Linked DNA regions of Homo sapiens: region 1 is linked to region 2. Evidence: fine-mapped expression QTL. A gene starts in region 2. The other region holds a variant in brackets. All regions are shown on one strand. Distances are between the middles of the regions.

What was found. PIP is the estimated chance that this variant, and not a neighbour inherited with it, causes the effect.
Region 1: its variant is the best candidate, but not a certain one, in a credible set for the expression of RANBP9 in whole blood (TOPMed, PIP 0.75).

What each region holds. Positions count from the first base shown.
Region 1 is chr6:13,748,955-13,751,748 of GRCh38, forward strand. No RefSeq gene overlaps it. Among named protein-coding and RNA genes, the nearest start is that of RANBP9, 39 kb to the left of the region's middle. The variant C/G (reference allele first, on the strand shown) is at 1,675.
Region 2 is chr6:13,710,782-13,713,575 of GRCh38, forward strand. RANBP9 (RAN binding protein 9) reads right to left here and starts at 1,054. Exons shown (of 14, transcript NM_005493.3): 1 at 154-1,054. The coding sequence starts at 724. LOC124901264 (a long non-coding RNA gene) reads right to left here and starts at 1,973. Exons shown (of 2, transcript XR_007059462.1): 1 at 1,902-1,973; 2 at 1,571-1,760. RefSeq lists silencers at 1-118, 379-428, 509-628, 789-1,558.

The sequences.
Region 1 (2,794 bases), 38 kb after region 2:
ATATAAATGGGATCATACATTATATACTCTTTGGTGTTTGCTCCTTTGATCTCACATAATGTTTTTGAAATAAAAATATATTGAGGGCTGGGCATGGTGGCTCACACCTGTAATCCCAGCATTTTGGGAGGCCAAGGCAGGCGGATCACCTGAAGTCAGGAGTTCGAGATCAGCCTGGCCAACATGGTGAAACCCCGTCTTTACTAAAAATACAAAAATTAGCTGGGCGTGGTGGTGCATGACTGTGATCCCAGCTACATGGGAGACTGAGGCAGGAGAATTGCTTGAGCCTGGGAGGCAGAGGTTGCAATGAGCGGAGATTGTGCCACTGCACCTCAGCCTGGGCAACAGAGTGAGACTCTGTCTCAAAAATAAATAAATAAATAAATAAAATAAACAAACAAAAATATATTCAATGTTTTGAATTTATTCAGGTTGTGTACATCAGTAGTTTATTCCTTTTTATTGCTGAGTAGTGTTCCATTATGTTGACATATATAGATACACCATCATTATCTATTTGCTTGCTAATAGATATTTTGGTTATTTTCTGTTTTGTTTTCACTATTATAAATAAAGCTGCTATAAGCATTTATGTACAAGTCTTCTTGTGGACATGTTTTCATTTGTCTTGGGTAAACAGCTAGGAGTGAAATTTCTGGGTCGTACGGTTATTGTAACCTTAGAAGAAACTGCCAAACTATTTTCCAAATTGGTTGTGCTGTTTTGTACATCTATCAGCAATGTTCATCCTGGCCAATACTTGGAACTGTCAGTTTAAAAAATCTTAGCCATTCTGGTGGCTGTGGAGTGGTATTTTCTTGTAGTTTTCATTTGCATTTCTCTGATAAATGAAAATGTGAAGCATTTTTCATGTACTTATTGGACAATTCTATATCTTCTTTTGTAAAATATTTGTTTATATCTTTTGCCCATAAAAAATTCGGGGTTTTGTCTTCTTACTGTTTATTTATAAAAGCTGTTTATATATTCTGGATAGAAGTCCTTTGTCAGTCCTTTCTGACTTATATGAAGATTAGAAGTTAAAAATTTGATGGAGTTCAATTTCTCAATGTCTTCTTTTCATGCCTTTGTGTCCCATCTAAGGAATCTGCCTAACCCAAACTTGTGAAGATTTTTTCCTATTTTTTCTTATAGCAGTGTTATAATTTTAGCCTGTAGAAGTAGGTCTTTGATTATTTCAAGTTAATTTTTGCATATGGTGTGAAGTAAAAGTTAAGGCTCATGTTTTTTCATATGGATATCCAGTTTTTCCAGCATGTTGTTGAAAAGATACCCTTTGCTCATTGAATTACCTTGGCACTTCTGTCTAAAGTCAATTGACTATATATGTGAGGATCTACTTCTGAACTCTCTGTTCCATTAATCTATTTGTCTGTTCTTACACTAATATTATATTAGCTTAATTACTGTAGCTTTATAGTTAGTATTGAATTCAGTTAGTGTAATTCCTCCACCTTCATTCTTCTTTTTAAAAAAAATTCTTGGCCGGGCGCAGTGGCTCACGCCTGTAATCCCAGCACTTTGGGAAGCCAAGGTGGGCAGATCATCTGAGGCTGGGAGTTCAAGACCAGCCTGACCAACATGGAGAAACCCCGTCTCTACTAAAAATACAAAATTAGCCAGGCGTGGTGGCGCATGCCTGTAATCCCA[C/G]CTACTTGGGAGGCTAAGGCAGGAGAATTGCTTGAACCCAGGAGGCGGAGGTTGTGGTGAGCCGAGATCATGCCATTGCACTCCGGCCTGGGCAAGAAGAGCAAAACTCCATCTCAAAAAAAAAAAAAAAAGAAGAAGAAGTAGTAGTCTTGGCTTTTCTATGTCTTTTGCAATTGCACAGAGATTTTAGCGTGAACTTATCAACTTCTTTTTAATAATATGCTTAGATTTTGATAGAGATTGCACTGAATCTATTGTCAATACTTTTTTCATTAAAAAATGTCATTCAGGGTTTGCTGGCTTTCATGCATGATGGCTTATTTCCTTGTATGTTCTGAGATATTTTTATTGTGAGCTCATATTCCTTGGAAATCTATCTCTTATAATTTGTTGAGGCCTGGATTTAAAATCTGTTTTCCAGAGAAGATTTGTATATATATTTCCCAGGCATAATTTACTACCTTGGCCTACTCTAAACAAAAATTGAAACACAAATTTTAAACAAAAATGGCTTATCCTTTTGTTGTTTTAGAATGATGGTGTCCATTTCTAATAATTATTTTTTCCAGTTTTCCCATGGATATATGGGTGGGGAAGATTGACCAGTTTATGTCACTATATATGTGTAAAATGAAGAAGTTAAAATCGTGTATTTTCTTCATGTAAGGTTAACCACTTGGCAGAGAATTGGATTAGACCAACTCAGAGAGGACAATCCTAATGAACTAAAATGGGAATTTCTCTAGAATGATAGAGCAACTGAACTAATTTCCTTCATTATGAAATTGGAGTCAATCAGCAAAAGATTTATTTGAATCCATCTTTACTACAAATTAACCATACAAATGTAAAAATAGATAAGTAGATTCACGATAGTCACTGCTGATGGTGTGTGGAGGTGTGTTTCTGTGTGGCAGTGTTAGACCAGGAGTGTGTAAAGGTGCAGAGAGGGGCTTAACAGTGTTCACAAGTTGCAGGGGCAACAGAAATGAGCAGGAAAATGCAGGTCCACCTGTAGGAATTTTACCTGCATCTATCTGCCCTCTCCAATTTCTTTTTCTTTTTCTTCCTGTTTCTATTTTTTTGAAATGGAGTCTCACTCTGTCGCCCAGGCTGGAGT
Region 2 (2,794 bases):
CGCGCCCACCCGGAGCAGCACAACAGGCGGCGAGTGGCCTCCGAGGGCAGAGCCCGCGAGGGCGGGGGTCGGGGGCGGGTCGAGAGCGGCGCAGCGGCGGCCGGCCACGTCGGGTCAGTGCCCCACTCCCACCGCAGGACACACGCCCAGTACCTTTGTAGTGCACCCGCAGGTTGTTCTGAGAGAGGCCGATGTAGCTGAACTTGTCCTTCGGGCTCCAGGACCGAGGCAGCGGCGTCTCTTGTTCGTCCACGGCCGGGTAGAGACGCTTCAGCCGCCGCTGCAACTCCTTCTCCTGCTCGTTCAGGGCCGAGTCCCCGTGAGGGAAGGGGGCCGCGGCGCTGCTGCCCGCCACCAGAGCTGGGGTCGGGGCTCCTCCAGCCGGGCCGGGGCCCGCTGCAAGGCCCGGGGGAGCGGGCGGCCCGCTGGCGGGGGCAGCCGCTGAGGCAGGGGGAGGCGGGGGCGGCGGCGGGGGCGGCGGGGCCGCGGTGGCCGGGGGCGGCGGCGGCGGAGGGTGGAGGAGCAGGGCGGCCGCCGCGGCCCCTAAGCCTTCGCCGCCCGCACCGCCGCCGGGCGAGCCGGCCGGAGAAGAGCCGGCGCTGACGGCCGGGGGCGCCGGCAGGACGACTCCGGAGACTGGGGCCAAGGCCGCCGGCGGTGGCGGCGACAGCTGCTGCTGCTGTTGCTGCTGCTGCGGCGGCGGCGGCGGCGGCTGCCCGGACATCCCGGCCGCGACTCAGCCTGCGGCCACCTCCACCTCTTCTCTCCTTCCTCCTCTGCTTCCCGGGGGCGCTGTCGCTGCGGCCGCCGGCACCAGGCGCCCAGTCCGCCCGCCCCGGAAGCAGGCGGCGGGCCGCGCGCCCAGGGAGACCGCGGCGGTTGAGGAGCTCGGAGACGCGGGAGTAGGCGGCGGGCCCGGGAGGCCGGGAGAGAACGTTGGCCGGAGCGCGGGCGCGCGGCCCGGGGACGAGGCGCCGAGGGCGGGGGCGACGCGGGAGCGCGGGAGGGGAAGGCGCGCTGGCGGCCGCCGCGGCCGCTGCTCTCGCGGCTGTTTCCCGGCGGGCGGGCCGGGCCGGCGCGAGACGCTGCGCGCGGGCGGCGCTAGGCGAGGGGGCGGGACGGAGGCGCGAGAGAGGCGCGAGCGGTGCGAGGGGGCGGGCCGCGGGGCTCCCGGCTGTGCGCCGCGAGGCGTCCTCCCGGGCCCGCCAGTCGCTCGTGGGCAGGATCGCTGGGCTCCCGGCGCCGCAGGTCCCTTCGGAGGTGTCCGCCTCCTCTCCCTTGGCGGCCGCCGTCGCCCCCCTCGCCGGCGAATCCCCTCCCACTTGACTTCTTTTTGTTGTCGTCGCCCCACCTCCCCACCGTAGGGCTCCTCGGAGCCGAGGCGCCGCTTCTCGTCCAGGCGAGAGTAATCGAGCCCCGCTGGGGCCGCCGCGAGCCCAGGCCCCGGGGCGCTCTAGGACCCGTCGGCCCGGGGCGTGCGGAGCGGCTCAGGCTCCCCGCGCAGTGCTGCTAGCTCTCGCCTCAGTCCCGTTCCCGTTTGCCGCCTCCCTCCAAAGAGGAACGCATTGCCTTTGGTACTTCAGTGTTTAATTCCGTAGCATTGACCATATGGGCAGTAGAAACCACTTCTGAAGGCAGTCTCCCACTTAGAATAGTGACTGTTTCATTAATTAATTTTACGAGGACTCACAGTGAACTTAACAGTGGTAGAAGATGTCATTAATAAAGACCGGCATATCTTCAAAAAGCAGGAGCAGGCACTGTATGAATACAAGATTATAGTGTGTGTTTAGGAAGGGCTTCTAGAGACGTCAGAACATTTTATAGACTCGTTAATTTTCATAACAGGGTTCTTAGGTAACAGAAAATTATGCCCATTTTTAAAACAAGGAAATATTTACCGAGATCAGCAGAGTCAAAAATAGGACTTCCTACTTTGCAATTCCCAATAGAATGCTTCGTCGACTAATTTGGCACAACTTGCCAAGTGTTGCTCTCTGACCCATCATAACATTACTACTTTGTTTTCACCACTTCCCTTTGTTTAGCTTATCCCTCCCTAGCTGGCAAAATCAGGCTTTGCATATGTAAATTGTGTGATGTAAATTCTGATATTTTGTTTGCTTCCAAAGATATGATGGTAATCATTTGGTCAAATAAGAAATGTTTTGCCGAAGAGAAAATTATTTCGTTTTGAAGAAGGTAGGCCAAAGGTGATTTAATTTAAGGCCAAGATTATCTGGCCAGAACAAATAACAGAGTCATTCGGCCTAATTTCTCCCTCAGTTACCCAGACAACTAGATGTTCTGTTGTACTTTTATTATTATTATTATTATTGTTTTGTCGCCCAGGCTGGAGTGCAGTTGTGTGGTCTCAGCTCACTACAACTTCCGCCTCCCGGGTTCAAGCGATTCTCCTGCCTCAGCCTCCCAAGTAGCTGGGACTACAGGCATGTGCTCACACCCAGCTAATTTTTGTACTTGTAGTGGAGACGGGGTTTCACCATGTTGGCCAGGCTGGTCTCGAACTCCCGACCTCAAGTGATCTACCCGCCTCAGCCTCCCAAAGTGCTGGGATTACAGGCGTGAGCCACCATGCCTGGCCTCTGTTGTAGTTTGATAGAAATATCCATTAATTTTAACCTGTTGTTTGATGACTTTTTTTAAACCACTGCACTTTGAATCACATGATGTCACTGTATTTACAGTGTTCTAACACTTTCATTTATATTACAGTAACAATGAGTTCAATGTAAGCCAAGCTCTATTTAAATGTACGATAGCCATGTTAGAA